Linked DNA regions of Homo sapiens. The protein of the gene in region 1 purifies or fractionates together with the protein of each later gene. This does not show direct contact. Each region holds a gene or a part of one and is shown in the gene's direction. Other genes may lie near its edges.

Evidence for each region.
Region 2: the proteins of LPAR1 (region 1) and MRS2 purify together in Homo sapiens (affinity purification with mass spectrometry; 3 studies listed by BioGRID and IntAct, with this or other methods). This does not show direct contact.
Region 3: the proteins of LPAR1 (region 1) and RMND1 purify together in Homo sapiens (affinity purification with mass spectrometry; 3 studies listed by BioGRID and IntAct, with this or other methods). This does not show direct contact.
Region 4: the proteins of LPAR1 (region 1) and NDUFAF1 purify together in Homo sapiens (affinity purification with mass spectrometry; 4 studies listed by BioGRID and IntAct, with this or other methods). This does not show direct contact.

Annotation. Positions count from the first base shown.
Region 1 is NC_000009.12:110,877,373-110,882,281, reverse strand, and holds part of LPAR1 (lysophosphatidic acid receptor 1), read left to right. Parts: intron 1-4,909.
Region 2 is NC_000006.12:24,405,288-24,410,196, forward strand, and holds part of MRS2 (magnesium transporter MRS2 homolog, mitochondrial isoform b precursor), read left to right. Parts: intron 1-3,120; coding exon 3,121-3,157; intron 3,158-4,173; coding exon 4,174-4,286; intron 4,287-4,909. UniProt on the Homo sapiens protein: Magnesium transporter that mediates the influx of magnesium into the mitochondrial matrix and regulates magnesium metabolism. Also permeable to calcium, sodium and potassium ions.
Region 3 is NC_000006.12:151,420,366-151,425,274, reverse strand, and holds part of RMND1 (required for meiotic nuclear division protein 1 homolog), read left to right. Parts: intron 1-1,643; coding exon 1,644-1,750; intron 1,751-2,669; coding exon 2,670-2,734; intron 2,735-3,953; coding exon 3,954-4,030; intron 4,031-4,909. UniProt on the Homo sapiens protein: Required for mitochondrial translation, possibly by coordinating the assembly or maintenance of the mitochondrial ribosome.
Region 4 is NC_000015.10:41,391,736-41,396,644, reverse strand, and holds part of NDUFAF1 (complex I intermediate-associated protein 30, mitochondrial precursor), read left to right. Parts: coding exon 1-158; intron 159-1,600; coding exon 1,601-1,786; intron 1,787-2,286; exon of another isoform or gene 2,287-2,540; intron 2,541-4,909. UniProt on the Homo sapiens protein: As part of the MCIA complex, involved in the assembly of the mitochondrial complex I.

The DNA of each region.
Region 1 (4,909 bases):
GACATGAAAGAGGTAGCATTCCTTCCTTCATGAAGTTAATATTCTTGTTGAGGGAAGATAAAACAATAAACATGTAAACCAATAAATACAATAATTTTGGGTATAAATAAAGGATATATCATTTGGGTATATCAGCATGTGATGATAATAAAATGGGAGAATGTGGTGATGGTGGTGGGCTGTTGCTCTGGCTAGGATAACCAAGGATAGCCTTTTTAAGAAAGCGACATTTAATAAGTAAATAGACATAAAAAGCTGCAGAGAGAGTAATCCCAGCAGATGGATCTATAAATGCAAAGATCCTGAGACAGAAATGGGCTTGGTCTGTGTGACTGGAACCTCGTAAATGAGGAGCGAGTGGAAAGAGATGAGATCCAAGAAACTAGCAGGGCCAGTCATGTGTAGGGCATTATGGATAGCAGTAAGGATTTCAAGTAGGAAGACTTTGGAGGGTTTTAAGCAGGAGAGTGACTTAGTGCAAATTGATTTATGCTTGTTTTGTACAAGCTGGACTTTAGGGAAGCAGTGTGGAGGAAGAGGAATTGGTTAAGAGCCTGTTGCAATTGGCAGATAAAAGGTATTGCTCACTTGGCTAGGATGGTAGCAGTGGAGAAGTGGTTTTACCTGGCTTTTCAGCACCTGAATGGTCTGTAAGAATGGCACTAGCATTCAAGTCATTTCAATGTGGACTTTCCAAGGTACAGTTGCAGGATGAGAGTTAGAGTCTGTTGTAGGGTATGGAACTTGTACGTGCGCAATACACACTACTTAATGTTAAGGAGAGTACACCAGAGGGAAGGCAGCTTTGGCATTCTCTTGGGCACAGGAAAGTAGCATTGTGGTGATCAGGAGAGTCTAATGAAGCTAAAACTGTCACCCAGGAATGTTAAAAAGAGAACATAATGAGTATTCTGCTCTGCTTTAGAGCTCTGTATGGTGTTATTATCCTTCTCTAAAAGATAAATGTTGCTCTCAAGAGTGAGTAATGAAAATACTAGAGCACATCATACAATAAATGAAATCATGAAACTTTAAATGTATGCAACATGTGCTGTGACCAGGAAGGAATGGCAGTGTTGAACACCAAACTAGATGGAGTAAAATTGGTATCAGGGTGGAAATAATATAGAACAATAATACTGTGGAGATACCTCAGGTAAATTATATAGTTTCAATAGTCAGGAAAAAAGATTTTTTAATTAATCTGGGTTATTCTTTTAGAAAAAGCGTTAATCTCAAAAAGCCATCCACATACACCCCCATTATAATGAACCCTTAGCTGCAAGACTGGGGAAGAATAAGCTTTGCATCTGTGGCCACTTTTTCTGACATAGGCTCTGTTAAGATACATAGCATTGAAGGATTTCCTAGCTAACTATGTAGTATGTGTGTACCTTAATAGCAGAAATCACAACGTAACTACAGAGATGAACTAAAATTTGATTAGATTCTGGGATACCACGCTGCCTGACCTGAGGGAATAAACAATTTAGGGAAAACAGAAAAAGCAACTTAGGCACTCATTTATTTTCTCCCTTGATTCCCACCGCAGGTCTCTGAGATGGGACTGTTTCTGGGATCCTCATTTGAAAAACAAGAAGAGTGAGGCCACCTTGGGCACAGTGCTGTTGTAGAATTGATTTACCTTGACTTGTTTTGGATCTATGGGATGTCTGGTTCTTTTGTAAAAACACAACTTTGCCAGCCAGACTAGAAACGCTTTCTGTGTTTTTCATCAAAAATCTTGGACACTGTCTCTAGAGGTCTTCTCTGGCAAGGACTGTTTTCCTCTTTAACTTTGGTTCTTGCATTCCATATGTAAGCAAAGTTCAACTAGTTAGGAAAAAGTCATTCTAGAAAAAAAGACTGTAATTGTGAGACCAGATGGTAAGCATTATTCAGCTGATGAGGTTGGATAGATTTGAGGGAAGGTGTGGTAATATGATCTCGATCTGCAGCTGTGACCTGTTGTTCCAAAACAGCCTCATTCCTCCCTGCCTTTTGCGTCTGCATTCCAGCACCTCTCCCTCCATCTTTGTGGGCATTGGGGTTCTCACAGATTGCTTTGACAGATGCATCAGGGAGGAATAAAGCTTGTTCAAGGAAGAACAACCCACGGATCTGTTTTGAATATCCTCCACCCCATGTTACTTGTAATATTGGCAAATCAGGGGACAATATAACCACTTTTGTTCAGCGTGCTGTGAGACAGTTTCCCATGACACAAATTGCCATGAGCCTATTTAGATGTAATTAAGGCATTTCCATTAGATGTCTTGCAGGTACCTCAAACTAAACACATACTGAACCCAGCTCATCAGCTGTCTTCTTCTCCTTACCTCCCTTACAAAACACCAGTAAACATTTTCTCCTGTGTTTCCTCCTTCAACCAAAGTGAAAATTTAGAAGTCATTCTAGACTTCTCTGTCTCATCCATCTCATGGAGTCCGTCTCCTAAATACTTCTCCAGTCCTTCTATATCTCTTCCCAGTGCTGCTGTCCTGATTCTGGCTTTCATTATCTCTCTTCTGGAATTTGGAAATAGTTTTGCCTTTACTTTATTTTCTTCTTCCACTCTGTCACCAATGTTGTGTCTTAAATGAAAATCTGACCAGTAAGGCCAATGAGATTACAATCCCATAGTGGGAGGTGTGGGTGAAGGTCTTTATTTTTTAAAGAAGCTCTGCAGACTATTGTAATGTGTGGCTAGGGTTGAGAATGTATGCTGGACTGGACAAATTTCAAATAGCCAGATATACAAGACCTTTGTGACCTTGGACATCTTATCTTCTGCTACTTCTGTTTCTGATGTTACAATAAATAACCACACTTCTTCATCCTTTTTTTTTTTTTTTTTTTTTTTTGAGATGGAGTCTTGCTCTGTCACTCAGGCTGGAGTGTGGTGGTGTGAGCTTGGCTCACTGCAACCTCTGCCTCCTGGGTTCAAGTGATTCTCCTGCCTCAGCCTCCCAAGTAGCTGGGACCACAGGTGTGCGCCACCACGCCTGGCTAATTTTTGTATTTTTAGTAGAGATGCGGTTTCACCGTTGTTGGCCAGGCTGGTCTCAAACTCCTGACCTCAGGTGATCCACCCACCTCGGCCTCCCAAAGTGCTAGGATTACAGGCGTGAGCTCCCGCACCGGGCCCTTCCTCTTACTTTCATACTGTTGCATACCATTCATCGGTGTTGTGCCTGGGTTTGTGGGATTCTTCTATCAGAAATGTGCTGGAAATATACAAACTACTCAAAGCACTATGACTACTGAGTACTATATTTCATTCCCCATCTTGGTAGGTGATGGCATTGACCCATGAGAACCTCCAAAATGATTTGCTTCCCTATGTTGTCTCTCTATTCCCTCTTGTTATCTTCTTCATACCCAACTGCAAGTCCTAGGAATCTCTTTATAATCAGGATAGTATTGTCTCAGAGCCTTTTGACATGCCAGCTCTTTCTTGTCCAAAACACATTTTCACATTCTGCCCTTGGAGAATCTATCCTAGGGCTCTGCAACGCCAGCGTGCCACTCACGTAAGTCATGGTGGTCAGGTAGATGCACAGTTTATAGAGGGCTTTTACAAGTTGTATCTCAGTTTGATCCTCACTGTGCCATGTGGAGGAGGCAGGGAGCTATTATTTCTCCACTTCAGAGGTGCTGAGATGGAGGTGTTTTAACTCTTATCAACCTTTCAGGTGTACGCTGAACTCTCTGTAGATTACATGTTGATGGGGTCCACAATGCACATCTCAAGTCCTGTAACCTGATTGAATTATGGTTAGCTCCTTACTATTAAAGGGGTTTAGGTGTGGTTTATTATTGTTTTCAGAAGCTCAAGGGGAAATCCTTAATTTGAGCAAAATTTATTTCAGAATATCCATTCATTGTGGGTTAGGAACCTCATCCCTTACAATTTTCCAGCCCCCATTTTCGTCTTCTGTAGTGCATCCTCATCTTTTGGTCAGTTTGATCCTTGAGGCCTCTGTGAAATAGAAAGGAGGGGGAGGGGGGCGCAGAATTTCCATATGATTGGTTTTAGATGTTGATTTCGGAGGCCTGTACTGTGAGTCACTGAAATTATTGGATTGAGTCTTGAAGATCCAAACACAGAGTGTTGGGACTGTGTGGTTGGGCTTAATCCTAGTACAAAAACCAGTTCCTTTCAGTGAAGAAGATAAAGGAGAGGAATCCAGGTTCCTCAATGAAGCATCCATACATAGAAGCTCCTGTGTCAGGCTGTGGTGTTTCCCACTTCCTGCCTTCAGTCTAGCAGGGTTCCTTGCATTTCTTGGTCTAAAAGTAAGGCTTATGGGCTCTTTCTGGAAAGATCTTACACCTTTTAAATTTTAACATGGGAAGAAATTATAAACAACAAATGACAGTGTTTGAATTCTCTCACTTTTGAGCAAAGTCAAGCAGCTTAAGTATGAGAGAATAAAGATATTCCCTTCTGTTGCCCAGAAGGAGAAAAAGATCATTTTATTTAAAATCTAGCTATTGAGATGCATGTTCCTTGTGTCTAATCAAGTTCTGAATTTGAACTCAATTAGAGCTTTGATAAAAGGAAGGGGAAAGGAAACTTGAAAGAATGCTGTTCCATTCATGAAGGGACTGTGTGTTTTTAGTTTCCAAGTAAATGGCATAATGGGACCATGCATTTTCCATCCAAGCATTTTCCATCCTGAGAATAATTCCCTTCCTGGCTTCTCAATGAATAATGCATTATTTCTGAAACCCAAGAGGCATTCCTTTGATTTTCCTTTATGTTTAGCTTTCTGAGTGATTTTCAAGCAAGGAAATTCAAGGACTTGGAATGAATGCTTTATTAACATTTTTATTGAAGTTCAAATTGCTCCTTGGCTATTATCTCCTGATATTTGAAATATTTTTTTCTCTCCAAGGAAAGTCT
Region 2 (4,909 bases), on another chromosome or scaffold:
TACATAAGTTAACTCGTTGGACTGTTGGCCAAGATACTACTTATTTTGAGCTTTATAATCATCATAGCTACATGTCGTGGCTGTTGTGCCTGGCCAGTGACCTAAGTGCCTGCTAGATTTGCTTAACAATGATCTTGAACCTTTGCTAATGACTGCAGCTCCCCTTTTAATACTAGAACAGGTCAATCACAATTCAGAGCCATAAAGAGGCTTGAACCTATGTTCTGCAAGATAATACGCAGGCAGAAGCATTTTGAAGGCAGCAGAGAGTAGTATTTAAAAATGCATGCTTTGAAAGGTCATGATCTCTAACTTTTCTCTGAAATGGTTCGGGGGTGGGGATGAGGGGGGAAATGAATGAATAAGATAATGTATCACACGTATTTTTAGAGAAAGAAGGCTGTTGGGGCAAAATGTTAACAAAGGTGACTCTAGGTGAAAGCTCTATGGGAATTGGTTGTAATATTCTTGCAACTTCTTTGTAGGCTTTTTTTTTTTTTCCAAAAAAAAAAAAAGTCTTGATAAAAAGGTGTGCCGGCCGGGCGTGGTGGCTCACGCCTGTAATTCCAACACTTTGGGAGGCCGAGGTGGGCAGATCATGAGGTCAGGAGATTGAGACCATCCTGGCTAACACAGTGAAACCCCATCTCTACTAAAAATACAAAAAATTAGCCAGGCCTGGTGGTGGGCGCCTGTAGTCCCAGCTACTTGGGAGGCTGAGGCAGGAGAATGGCATGAACCCAGGAGGCGGAGCTTGCAGTGAGCCTGGATCATGCCACTGCACTCCAGCCTGGCAGACAGAGTGAGACTCCATCTCAAAAAAAAAAAAAAAAAGGTGTGCCTATTCTGAGCCAGACTTCCTAAATTCCAATCTCACTCTGCCTCTTATTGACTAGGTGGCCTTGGACAAGTTACAATAACATCTTTGTGCCTTAGTTTTCTCATCTGAAAACTGAGCATAACCTACCATATAGAATTGTTATGAGGATTAAATTAACTCATATATAGAAAGCCCTTAAACTAGTGCCTCACATATAGTAAGCCTCAAATATATTTCATTAGGATTATTTAGGCTTGTTAACATAAGAGCTTTTCTTTATAAACTATATAAAATTAAATAACCCCCAGAATTGCGTTTAAAAGTTACCACTGTTATTCATTGTTCTGGAAGAGTTGGCCAATTTAGTTAAGAATACAAAATCAGGGCCAGGCACGGTGGCTCACGCCTGTAATCCCAACACTTTGGGAGGCTGAGGTGGGCATATCATTTGAGGTCAGGAGTTTTAGACCAGCCTGACCAACATGGTGAAACCCCGTCTCTACTAAAAAACAAAAAAATTAGCCAGGCGTGGTGGTGCACGCCTGTAGTCCCAGCTACTCAGGAGGCTGAGGCAGGAGAATCGCTTGAACCTGGGAGGTGGAGGTTGCAGTGAGCCAAGATTGCACCACTGCACTCCAGCCTGGGCAACAGAGCAAGACTCTGTCTCAAAAAAAGAATACAAAGTCAAACGTGAAATACTGAAAGTTAGTTCTTTGCAGGTGAAATAATTGCAAAGAACACTTAAGAAATTCATAAAGCTATGGAATCTGAGAAAGAAAAATTTAATTTGTGCTGTTTGAAATAGTTTAGAAAGTGAGCTGGTTACAAAGTAAATATTTTTTTCTTTATAATTTGTATGATTTAAAAAATTTTTTTAAGTTCCATTAAAGAAAAAAAGGGTACATATAAATATTGAGATGCAAAAATATTCAGCATATGTTGCTAATTTGGAAGGAGGGAGACTGCAAAGCAGTATGTATAAGTATGTTTTATTAGGAAAATGTTTGGAAGGATATTCAGTGAAATATTGACATGGTTTTCTCTAAAATTTGTCATTTCAGGTGATTAATATAGTTTTATGTTACGTATATTTATTTTCAAATTTTCTGCAGTGGGTTTATGTATTTGTGAAATATAAGGCTGAAAGCTAGACTATTACACAAATATAAAGCTTTCTTTGATATAAATTTTCCTTTAATGTTCTATGGAACTTATATATTCATATTAATTTTATTTTTGCTGATGAGAAGCAAGATAAAATATATATATTGTGAGTTTTTATTGTGTGATTAACACAGCATGTATATTTCCATGGTAGTAACCCAAGACCTATATTGTACTTAAACCTGTATGTTGGAGTGTCTTTCTGAAATGTGTCTGTCGTAGTAAGTAGTACAGCTCAGCACATAGTGATTCATTAAATGTTTCACAGCTTCAAACTTGACTGTGGATAAACATCACTGAAAGATAGTCCCCTACTTTGCAGGAAATAGGTGCATTTTCTGTATCAAATCCTCTCTTCAAACTATCAGAAGGGGTTCTGTAAATCTTTATTGATTCTGCAACACCCACCAAAGAGACTTTGGCCTCATGTAGACATTTAGATTCACAAGGCGGGCCATACTTGGTCCCAGTCTACTCAGAAGGATAAGGGACAGGAGAAACAACAGGGTAGTGTTAGGTGTTTCCTCTTCAAAAGAAGTCTTTGCAGCCATCCAGGGGCTTCTCTGGTCCTCTGAGTGATCGCTCAGTGACAAGGAGATAAGATTCTCAAAGGTGGATGTGAGATTCATCTTGGCTCGAATCCCCATGCCCCGTAGTGACAGTATCCCTTGTAACCATCGCAGGGGCACAGTGTCCAGGATTCTGGCTGGGAACATGGCCACAAGAGCCACCACAATCAGGAAAGGGCAAAGAGAGCTATTGCTTTTCACCTGATAACTGTAATTTGTTCGTCTTCCCAGTCCAGTGCAGTCTACCAGTCAATGGTCATTTTTACCATAAGGATTGTTACCTAGTAACAACACAACTGATACTCCTTTATCAACTTTCTAGAGGAACCAAGATAGAAAGTTAAACCCAGGTCTGATTTTTCCTATCAAAGGAAAAAAGGATTTTAAAAAAACCCTTAACTCATAACTGGATTTAATCTAAAGAAGGTCAGTAATGGTTTATATTTGCATTTCAACATTTTGGGGATATTACTTACAATACCATAAATTCTTAACTAAATTAGCAATACCATAAGTAGCATTCTAATTTGAAAGAAAATCATAATTTGTTTTATTCTCTATTTTCAGACAAAATTTGACAAACAGGGAAACGTTACTTCTTTTGGTGAGTGATTAGCATTCTAAATCATTTTTTAAACATTTAATGAGTGAATCTGATAGAAATCAAGAAATTGTAGTATTTTGAGTAAAATATTCTTTGCATATACAGGTGTGTTGAAAGAGATCTTTCTTCAGCATTTGTCCATCAGTCTTAATTGGAGCTGGCAATACTCAGACTGTGTGTATTCTCCCAGAATTGTTTTCTTCTAGCAGGAGCCACTTTTTGCTCTAACAGGCTATTGAAGGAATATTTGGGAGAGCAGAGGCTGGTGTAGAACTGGAGCCCAGAGACACACTCTTTTTCTCTTTTGTCTCTCTTGTTGGCGTCCCTTTCACTGCCCTCATTCATTCTCCTGAAGCATGTTTAAGGCAGAGTCACATAATACCACTGACATTGCAGTGGGTGACAAAAGATGAACAGGGCCATGTCACTGCATGGCAGCCACATGGAACTCTGCTGCTGATGGCTCTCTGTGGACAGCTACTTTAAAAAGTGAGACTAGGCATTACTTTACAGTGTGACTTCAGATGTGAGTTTCACATCTCCCTTGAGAATGAATCAGTCTCAGGTAATAAATTCAGCTTTTCTCATTTTTGTATTAGTCTAAGAACAAAGAAAATCAAGCTTATCTGTTCACATATATAAAATACTGAAGATGATGTTGTAGTAAAAATAGAAAATATAGTTGTGTACAGTTTATATTTAAGAGAGATAACCTGTCTCTAGAGCTGGACATTTATAGGTTCTAATGATGCATAGTTGTGGTTTCTGTATTAGTCTCAAGGGTCTTCTAAGTAGTGAGAAAGTTATGAGGTATAGATAAGAAAATCATTAGTTTGACTCTATTTAGCCCGAGTATGTTTTCTAGGTAAAAATGGATATTAAAAGACTTAATTTTAGTTTTTGTTTCTGGTAGTAACCAAAAATTGTCTTGATGGTGGTGGGAGGACTGCTCTGATGGAAAAATCTAAGCCATTTAATGTATTTGGTTTAGCCCTCTCTGTTTATTTCTTTTATAGAAAGGAAGAAAACTGAATTATACCAAGAGTTAGGTCTTCAAGCCAGAGATTTGAGATTTCAGCATGTAATGAGTATCACAGTCAGAAACAATAGGATTATCATGAGAATGGAGGTAAAATATTTTATTTTCATCTATGTTTCTCCAATACAATCTTATAAAAGTTACCTTCTAACTATCTTGATTAGTATCTAGGTTAAAAGTAATTTTGGAATAGAAATAGCTACCTGAAACATAGGATGTTTTATAGCTTAATATGCTATTATGAGTAGAACTCATTTTATATGGATTATATGCACATGTTCAATAGGCATAACACTGCTGTGTTTTAAGTTGGAAAAGCTCTGACTGTGGTGTTCATTCTCACTGTTGGGATTTACTCTCTAGTTCTGGAAACTATAAGACAATCCTGATTTATAATAGATATATATCCAATTGTGTACAGTTACATGTAATTATAGTATAACCTGAGCTACCAAAAATGTATTCTGGCTTTCTAAATAGCACAGGAATAGACATTAAATTTTATAGCCTTAATTTTTTTTTTGAGATGGAGTTTTGCTCTTGTTGCCCAGGCTGGCACGATCTTGGCTCACTGCAACCTCCACCTCCCAGGTTCAAGCAATTCTCCTGCCTCAGCCTTCTGAGTAGCTGGGATTACAGGCATAAGCCACCAAACCCAGCTAATTTTGTATTTTTAGTAGACATGGGGTTTCTCCATGTTGGTCAGGCTGCTC
Region 3 (4,909 bases), on another chromosome or scaffold:
CATGGGCCCAGTTTACTCATAAAGCATCTTGTGACCAAGCACAGTGGCTCATGCCTGTAATCCCAACACTTTGAGAGGCCAAGGCGGGCAGATCACTTGAGGTCAGGAGTTCAAGACCAGCCTGGCCAACATGGTGAAGCCCTGTCTGTACTACAAATATAAAAATTAGCTGGATGTGGTGGTGCACTCCTGTAATCCCAGCTACTCAGGAGGCTGAGGCAGGAGAATCGCTGGAACCCAGGAGGCGGAGGTTGCAGTGAGCGAAGATCACGCCACTACACTCCAGTCTGGGTGACAGAGCAAGACTCCGTCTCAAAAAAAAAGACCTCTTGTGACTGCTGTCTTTGCTTTCCTTCCTCCATCTGAGGCTGTCATAGCAGATGCCGCCCTCCATCAGGCCCCTTGTCCCCCTCCCTTTGGCCGTCACTTCTTGTCTGACATCTTTTGTGAAGGTTTACCCTGTCTTTTTTCCATTTGCTTGTGATGTTTATATTCACACATTCCGCTCTTCCCCTGTCCCCTGTCTAGGATTCTCCACAGTCACATACTCATTTTTCACAACTTCCTTGCCTCCCTCCCCAACCCCATCATGTCAGTGTGATTTTAGATTACACTCCATATATAGTTTTATATGCAGCATTTTTTCACATAGAAATTTACTGTGAACGTTCTCCTTTTTATTAACTATCCTTCCAAAACACACTTTTAAGTTTTTCTTGTGTGGAGTGACTATTACTGAGCCAACCCCTACTGAACATTTGGTTTATTTCCTAATTTTTTACTCTTAAACACTGACCTTTTTTTTTTTTTTGGAGACAGAGTCTTGCTCAGTCTCCCAGGCTGGAGTGCAGTGGCGTGATTTCGGCTTACTGCAAGCTCCGCCTCCCGGGTTCACTCCATTCTCCTGCCTCAGCCTCCCGAGTAGCTGGGACTACAGGCGCCCGCCACCACACCCGGCTAATTTTATTTTGTGTTTTGAGTAGAGACGGGGTTTCACCATGTTAGCCAGGATGGTCTCAATCTCCTGACCTCGTGATCCACCTGCCTCGGCCTCCCGGAGTGCTGGGGTTACAGGCGTGAGCCACCGTGCCCAGCCAACACTGACCATTTTTTTAAAAGTTTTCAGCTGGGCAAGGTGGCTCGCACCTGTAGTCGCACCACTTTGGGAGGCCGAGGTGGGTGGATCATTTGAGGTCAGGAATTCAAGACCAGCCTGGCCAACATGGTGAAACTCTATCTCTATTAAAAATACAAAAAAAATTAGCTGGGTGTGGTTACGCATGCCTGTAATCCCAGCTACTAGGGAGGCTGAGGCAGGAGAATCGCTTGAACCTAGGAGACTGAGGTTGCAGTGAGCTGAGATCGCACCACTGCACTCTAGCCTGGGCGGCAGAGTGAGACTGTCTCAAAAAAAAAAAAAAAAGTTTTCTTGTATACAAATTTTTCTTTGCATCTTAGATTATTTCCTTAGGATAAACTCCTAGAAAGGGAATTACCTGGACCAAAGGATATGAGAACATTTGTAACACTCTTGATACAAATTGTCAAAATGACCTCCAGAAAGATGATATGGTGTCTTTTTCAAAGGAAAAGTTAAAGTGCTTTTTAAGATTTAGAAGGTATTATCTTTTTGCTTTTCACAGGGGACAGTCAAAACTTCACAGGGGGGAAATCAAGTTAAATTCAGAGCTGGATTTAGATGATGCCATTCTAGAGAAGTTTGCTTTCTCCAATGCTCTATGCCTTTCTGGTAAGTTACTACTGCTTATGGGATAGGGTACTACAGTTGTCATTTCACTGAGGGAAGTTTAAATAGTCACGATTTTGGTATATTTTCAGAATACTCAACAAAGCCTTAGCATTCCTTTTCCTTTTTTTCCCTCCATCAGAAAAAATATCTAGTATAAAAGATAGTACTGTGCTGAAGTTACTCATTCCTTATTAATTGTATTAATAAAGCTTAACCTCTCCAAAAGTATTTTTTAGATGATGATTATATTAGCCTTTGTTTTTTTCTCTTCTCTCTATGCGATTGTTATTCTTAGATAGTCTCTAATCCAGACAGAGAAGCCCAGCCTTGTGTGACTGGGCACAGGTCCCAGTGTAGAAAAACATACTCTAGTGTTCCATAGGAATGGGACCCAGAGTCACAGTGGCTATAAGTTTGTTCTGAAAGATCCACATCCCGAATAAAACTATACAAGTTCTTTAAGAATTTCTTTTGCCAGCAGTCTACCTTAGGTGGCTGCTGCAGCGTCCTGTCCATCCCACTCTGAGGGGCTTCGGAGATTTCTGAGGTTTACTCTTAGTCCTGAGGAGTGAAGGGGAGGCCAGGAAAGTCTTAGTCGCGCCCTATCTGCAGAGCTACCCATGGTATCAAGGTGTACCCTACCCTCCTCAGTTTCCAAGATGTAATACTAGAAAATCAAGAGTTCTACTAAATGTAGCTTTGGTCTTCCAATAGGGCATGGAAAGCGATTCAGTTTCCTCTATCCACTTTAATTCTGTCCTTTATGATAATTAACTATTCTTAAATTATATTTTCAAGGTTTTAGTACTTTTTCTTAAACTATTACTGAAATAGTAGTGAAGATGCTGTGCAATTATGTATTTTATATACATGTGAATATGATGATAAAGAAATGTTCCATTATTAATTTTTTTCCCAGTAAAACTGGCAATTTGGGAAGCATCACTGGATAAATTTATTGAATCTATTCAGTCAATTCCTGAGGTAATTATATCAATTTTATGCTTATTCAAGGATTGATTTTTATATGTAAAAAATATGAATTTCCCAATATAACAATATATAGCTATCCATCAGTATCCATGGGAGATTTGTTCCAAGACCCCACTGGATACCAGAATCTACCAGTGTCCAAATCCCTGATATAAAATGGTATATATTTGCATATAACCTATGCATATCCTCATGTATACTTTCAACCATCTCTAGATTACCTAAAATACCTAATATAATGTAAATACTATGTAAATAGTTGTTATACTGTATTATTTAGGAAATAATAACAAGAAAAAACAGTTTGTACATGTTCGGTACAGATGCAACCATTCTTTTTTCTCAAAATACTGTCAATTTGCAGTTGGTTGAATCTGCAGTTGCAGAACTTATAGAGGGCCGATTGTTTAGGAGTACAACAACATTATTACAAACAATAAGAAAACTACAGTAAACTTAAGAACTCCCAGTTACATATAAAATGACAAATTAAGAAACTTCATATTGATTACTTTTTACTTTTTAAAACTTCAAATTGTTTCCTCTGTTGGTGCAGTATTTTTTTTTTAATATTAATATAATTGAAATGGGGTCTGGCCATGTTGCCCAGGCTGGTCTTGAACTCCTGGGCTCAAGCGATCCTCCTGCCTCGGCCTCCCAAAGTTCTAGCATTACAGGCCACGAGCCACCATGCCCGTCAGTTGCAGTATTTTTAATGTAACTGAATTAAAGAAAAAAGTGAAATGTTTCTCTCTGAGAATGGAAATTATGACCACTTTTCCTGATTTAAGAAAGTGTTTTGCTAAATTATGAGAAAAATAGTGGTATGAAAAATACATATAAAGTTATATTGAAATTTCAGTATACATTAAAAATCATCATATTGTAATTAACTGTGTCTTTATTGTGAAAGAGTAATCTAATTATACTTCGGAAAGGAGGCCCTGCTTTTCTACTAAGAGATTAGGAATGTATATATCATTGAAAATGCTGATGAGAAGGGAAATGAAAAAAGAGAATATACAATTTCTACCTAATAAAATTATGAAATTTCAAGGTGAGTTAAGACATTAATCTGGGAGACAGCCATCCTAAAAAATATTTACATAGGATCCAAATTATGCCACTTCAGATTTTGCCCTGTTGACCTAATGCTTATTAGAAAGAGAGATACATGGTTTTTTGGTTTTTCCGATTCCCTCTCAACTAGGCTTTAAAAGCTGGGAAGAAAGTGAAACTATCTCATGAAGAAGTTATGCAGAAAATCGGTGAACTCTTTGCTCTAAGGTAAAAGTTTTCTCTCTAAATAAAATATTTCATATATTTAACAATCTCAAGAAAACATTCCCATAGTTCTGTGGTGAAGAGCAAACATTTACACGTTTATGGGAACTGTAGCTGTTTTCATTTCATTGATTATAAGCAGGGAGAACTCTTACCCATTAGAAGTAGTTGGGCTGTGTTAAGACTGTACTGAAAGAAATCACGCATGTGCAAAAGAGATCACGATTCATCTACATTAAACCCACATTAAGGAGCACAGTAGGTGTTCTTTGAAGGTAGAAAGACATATTCCTGAATTTGGTTAATGGGAATTCTCTGTAAAAATATATCACTGCATCATAATGCTAAATAGGCTTAATTGCTACAGAAAAGTTTCTTTGAATCTGAGACACCAAGATGCCACTGGAGAGAAAAACTGCTGCCAGTTAAACTATGACAATACTTTTTTTATCAGAGGATTAAAATTTTACACTTACTGAAATATCTTTTAATCTTAGCTGGATATAAATTATATCACATTCCCTCTTGGGCATATATGAAAAGGAAAGCATAAGAAAATAAATTATTTAAGGCAAAGACAAGTAAGTCTCAAGTGCCACCTGTCAGACACCATTAATTTTAAGATGCCTCGAGATGTTAAAATGGGAATAACTATGTCTAAAAACTGATGAATCATTTTAAATAAGTATCTGGAAAGGTTTTCAGCTTTTATTATTCTTGTAGTTGTCCCAGGATTTACGGAATGAAACATCCCGGATGTTGGTGTTTTTCTCACAGGCAGCATTGTCCAGTTTATCCCTTCTAGCATGTGGAATGAGTTACCAGAGCTCACTGCAAATGTTCACCTAAGACTTGTTTTTCCATATTCTCCTTAGATGCTCT
Region 4 (4,909 bases), on another chromosome or scaffold:
CTTCTGATAAGACGATTGGAGGCAGAAGTGAAGTGTTTTTGAAAATGGGCAAGAATAACCAAAGTGCACTGCTATATGGAACTCTGAGCTCTGAGGCGCCTCAGGACGGGGAGTCTACCCGAAGTGGGTACTGTGCAATGATATCCAGGATTCCAAGGGTAGGTGAGGCCCAGGAGCCATCGTTTTCTAGTAAACAGGGGTGAACTTCATTGTAGCATAAACTATAGAAGATAGCTTTTGTTTCTGTAAATGAAAACACCTGGCATGTTATATTTGGCACCTCACCTGTGTCTGGGGATAAGTAACTATTGGCACAAGTGTGAAGTGGAAGCACAAGGGGGAAGTGGTTTCTGAGGAGGAGGAGTTAACTTGTTTCTGCGCATTGCTTTGGGCCAGGAACGAGCATTGTTATGTTTCAGGAATCCTGAGAGGTTAGACATTTGAAAGATTTTTGGAGAGATTTTCATCTCCTCTAAAAAAGACCACAACCTCTGTAATGACCAGGGGTTTTGTAGAGTGGATGTAGGGTTAGCCTGTGGCTTTCTTTTTTTTTTTTTGAAACGGAGTCTTGCTCTGTCGCCCAGGCTAGAGTGCAGTGGCGTGATCTCGGCTCACTGCAACTTCCGCCCTCCAGGTTCAAGCGATTCTCCTGCCTCAGCCTCCTGAGTAGCTGGGACTACTGGTGCACACCACCACGCCCAGCTAATTTTTGTATTTTTAGTAGAGACAGGGTTTCACCATGTTGGCCAGGCTGGTCTTGAACTCCTGACCTCAGGTGATCCACCCCACCCTTGGCCTCCCAGAGTGCTGGACATGGTGGTGCATGCCTGTAATTCCAGGTACTTGGGAGGCTGAGGCAGGAGAATTGCTTGAACTCTGGAGGCAGAGGTTGCAGTGAGCTGAGATCGTGCCATTGCACTCCAGTCTGGGCAACAAGAGCGAAACTTTGTCTCAAAAAAAAAAAAAAAAAAAAAAGGCCGGGCGCAGTGGCTCATGCCTGTAATCCCCACACTTTGGGTGGCCAAGGTGGGCGGATCACCAGGTCAGGAGATCGAGACCATCCTGGCTAACACGGTGAAACCCCGTCTCTACTAAAAATACAAAAAAATTAGCCGGGTGTGGTTTTGGGCGCCTATAGTACCAGCTATTCGGGAGGCTGAGGCAGGAGAATGGTGTGAACCCAGGAGGCAGAGCTTGCAGTGAGCTGAGATTGCACCACTGCACTCCAGCCTGGGTGACAGAGCAAGACTCCGTCTCAAAAAAAAAAAAAGAAAAGAAAAGAAAAGAAAAGAAAAAGTCATTGCTCCATACGACCAGGTAAAGGAAATACATTCATTTCCATTCATTGAACACAGGTGAGTGCCTACCCCATGTAAACACTGTCCTGGGCCAGTTGTGTGTTGAACATTACCTTAGAAACATATAACTATGTCAGTATTTTGTGCTAAAATAATAATCACTGGGTTTATGTGCCTTCTTATGGGGCAGAAAGTCAGAAAAATGGTTAGTGCATCCTGTTGATGATGCTGACTTGGTGATGACTCACATTTTGCTAATAATGGAGAATGAGGTACAATGAACTTTACTTTCAATATCTTAGGGTGCTTTTGAGAGGAAGATGTCTTACGATTGGTCCCAGTTCAATACTCTGTATCTCCGTGTACGTGGGGATGGTCGGCCTTGGATGGTGAATATCAAGGAGGACACAGATTTCTTCCAGAGGACGAATCAGATGTATAGTTACTTCATGTTCACCCGCGGGGGACCCTACTGGCAGGAGGTCAAGGTAACAGCATAAATCTTCATTGTTTATAAAAATGAGGTCTTGGCTGGGTGAGGTGGCTCACGCCTATAATCCCAGCAATTTGGGAGGCCGAGGTGGGTGGATCACCTGAGGTCAGGAGTTCGAGACCAGGTTGGCCAACATGGTGAAACCTAGTCTCTGATCGTGCCATTGTACTCCAGCCTGGGCAACAGAGTGAGATGAGACTCTGTCTCAAAAAAAAAAAAAAAAAAAAAAAAAAGTCTTGGAGATGATTGTTACATTGTAGTTTCTTTTTTGTTACTAATCTTTCTTGGAAGGTGGGGGTGGGTGGGTAGAAGAAAGGTTAAGAGACATAAATGAATTTTGTTTCATTAATATAAATGTTAACATACTAACTAGTGAATATTTTTGATATGGATGTGGCCAGGTCCATGCTAAGTCACAGGCACATCTCTGCTCTGTGTCCAAATAGATGGGGTTTGTTTGTTTTTTAGAAGTTTCTGCCATTTCATGTCTTCCAGGCAACTCTGCTAAAGTTGGTGTCCTAGGCCTGCGTGGTGGCTCACACCTGTAATCCCAGCACTTTGGGAGGCCAAGGCGGACGGATCACTTGAGGTTGGGAGTTCGACACCAGCCTGACCAACATGGAGAAACCCTGTTGTCTCTACTAAAAAAAATACAAAATTAGCTGGGCGTGGTGGCGCATGCCTGTAATCCCAGCTACTCGGGAGGCTAAGGCAGGATAATTGCTTGAACCCAGGAGGCGGAGGTTTCGGTGAGCCGAGATCGTGTCATTGCACTCCAGCCTGGGCAACAAGAGCCAAACTTTGTCTCAAAAAAAAAAAAAAAAAAAAAAAAAAGTAGTGTCCTAGGCCAGGCGTGGTGGCTCATGTCTGTAATCCCAGCACTTTGGGAGGCCAAGGTGGGTAAATCACCTGAGATCAGGAGTTTGAGACCAGCCTGGCTAACATGGCAAAACCCCATCTCTACTAAAAATACAAGAATTAGAGGCCAGGCGCGGTGGCTCATGCCTGTAATCCCAGCACTTTGGGAGGCCGAGGTGGGCAGATCACGAGGTCAAGAGATCGAGACCATCCTGGCCAACATGGTGAAACTCTGTCTCTACTAAAAATAAAAAAATTAGTTGGGTGTGGTGGCGTCGTCCCAGCTACTCAGAAGGCTGAGGCAGGAGAATCGCTTGAACCTGGGAGGCAGAGGTGGCAGTGAGCCGAGATGGGCCACTGCTCTCCAGCCTGGCGACAGAGTGAGACTCCATCTCAAAAAAAAAAAGGCCGGCCGCGGTGGCTTACGCCTGTAATCCCAGCACTTTGGGAGGCTGAGGCGGGTGGATCACGAGGTCAGGAGATGATGGAGACCATTCTGGCTAACACAGTGAAACCCCGTCTCTACTAAAAAAATACAAAAAAAATTAGCCGGGCTTGGTGGCAGGTGCCTGTAGTCCCAGCTACTCAGGAGGCTGAGGCAGGAGAATGGCGTGAACCCGGGAGGCAGAGCTTGCAGATCGTGCCACTGCACTCCAGGCTGGGCGGGAGACTTCGTCTCAAAAAAAAAAAAAAAAAAAAAAAAATTAGCCGGGCATGGTGGTGTGTGCCTGTAATCCCAGCTACTAGGGGGGCTGAGGCAGGAGGATTGCTTGAACTTGGGAGGTGGAGGTTGCAGTAAGCTGAGACCGTGCCACTGCACTCCAGCCTGGGCAACAGAGCAAGACTCCGTCTCAAAAAAAAAAAAAAAAAAAAACTCAACAAGAAAGTCCCCATTTTGCTCATGTCATATACTTGAGGGTCATCCTGAATTCTTCTCCTTTGCCCCACATCCAGTCTATTAGCGAGTCCTGTCACCTCTGCTTCCAAAATACACTCAGCAGCTGACCATTTCTAGCCATCTCTTCTACTCCCACCCTGGTCCAGGTGTTTGGATTATTGCAGCAGCTTCATTATTGATTTCCCTGTTTGTCTTCTTGCCCCACTAAAATCCTGGCTCCACAGCAGCCAGAGTTATCTTTCTGAAGCATAGTTCAGATGACATCATTTACATGCTTGTAAGCATGTAAATGTACCTCCTAAGCATGTAAGCTGTATTAGTCTGTTCTCGTGCTGCTGCTATGAAGAAATACCTGAGACTAGGTAATTAATAAAGGAAAGAGGTTTAATTGACTCACAGTTCTGCAGGGCTGGGGAGGCCTTAGGTAACTTATAAAATCATGGCAGAAGGGGAAGTAAACACATCCTCCTTCACATGGTGGCAGGAAAGAGAATGAGAGCCGAATGAAGGGGTAATCTCCTTATAAAACCATCAGATCTTGTGAGAACTCACTGTCACTAGAACAGTATGGGGGAAACCACACCCATGGTTCAGTTAACTTCACCTGGTCCCTCCCTTGACACATGGGGATTACTACAATTCAAGATGAGATTTTGGGTGGGGAGACAGCCAAACCATATCAGGACCCTTCAGTGGTTTCCCATTACAATTCGAATAAAGTCCAGGCTGGGCTAGGTGGCTCATGCTTTTAATCCCAGCACTTTGGGAGGCTGAGATGGGCAGATCACTTGAGGTCAGGAGTTTGAGACCAGCCTGGTCTACATGGTGAAATCTTGTGTCTACTAAAAATACAAAAAATTAGCAGCAGGTGGTGGCACACGCCTGTAGTCCCAGCTCCTCAGGAGGCTGAGGCAGGAGAATCGCTTGAACCTGAGAAGTGGAAGTTGCAGTGAGCCAAGATCGCGCCACTGTACTCCACCCTGGGTGACAGAGTAAGACTCCATCTCAAGAAAAAAAAAAAAAAAAAAAAAGAATAAAGTCCAAACTCCTGCACATGGCCTATGGGCCTACAATATCGGACCCCTGTCTTCATCTTCCATCTCTCCTCCTGTCTTCATCTTCCATCTCTCCTCCTACCTCCTTCCTCCACACCAGCCCCTTTTCTGTCAGATTTAACAACCTCATTTCCATCTCAGAGCTTTGCACTTAGTGTTGCTCTGCTGTAATGCTCTGCCCCCATGTCTTCACCTGCTTTCTCTTTCCTGTCATTCACCTCTCGGCTCAAAAGTTGCCTCAGAGAGGCCTTTCCTGATTCCTGTAACTAAAGTTGGACCCTCTAATCCAGTTATTTCAACACCACCA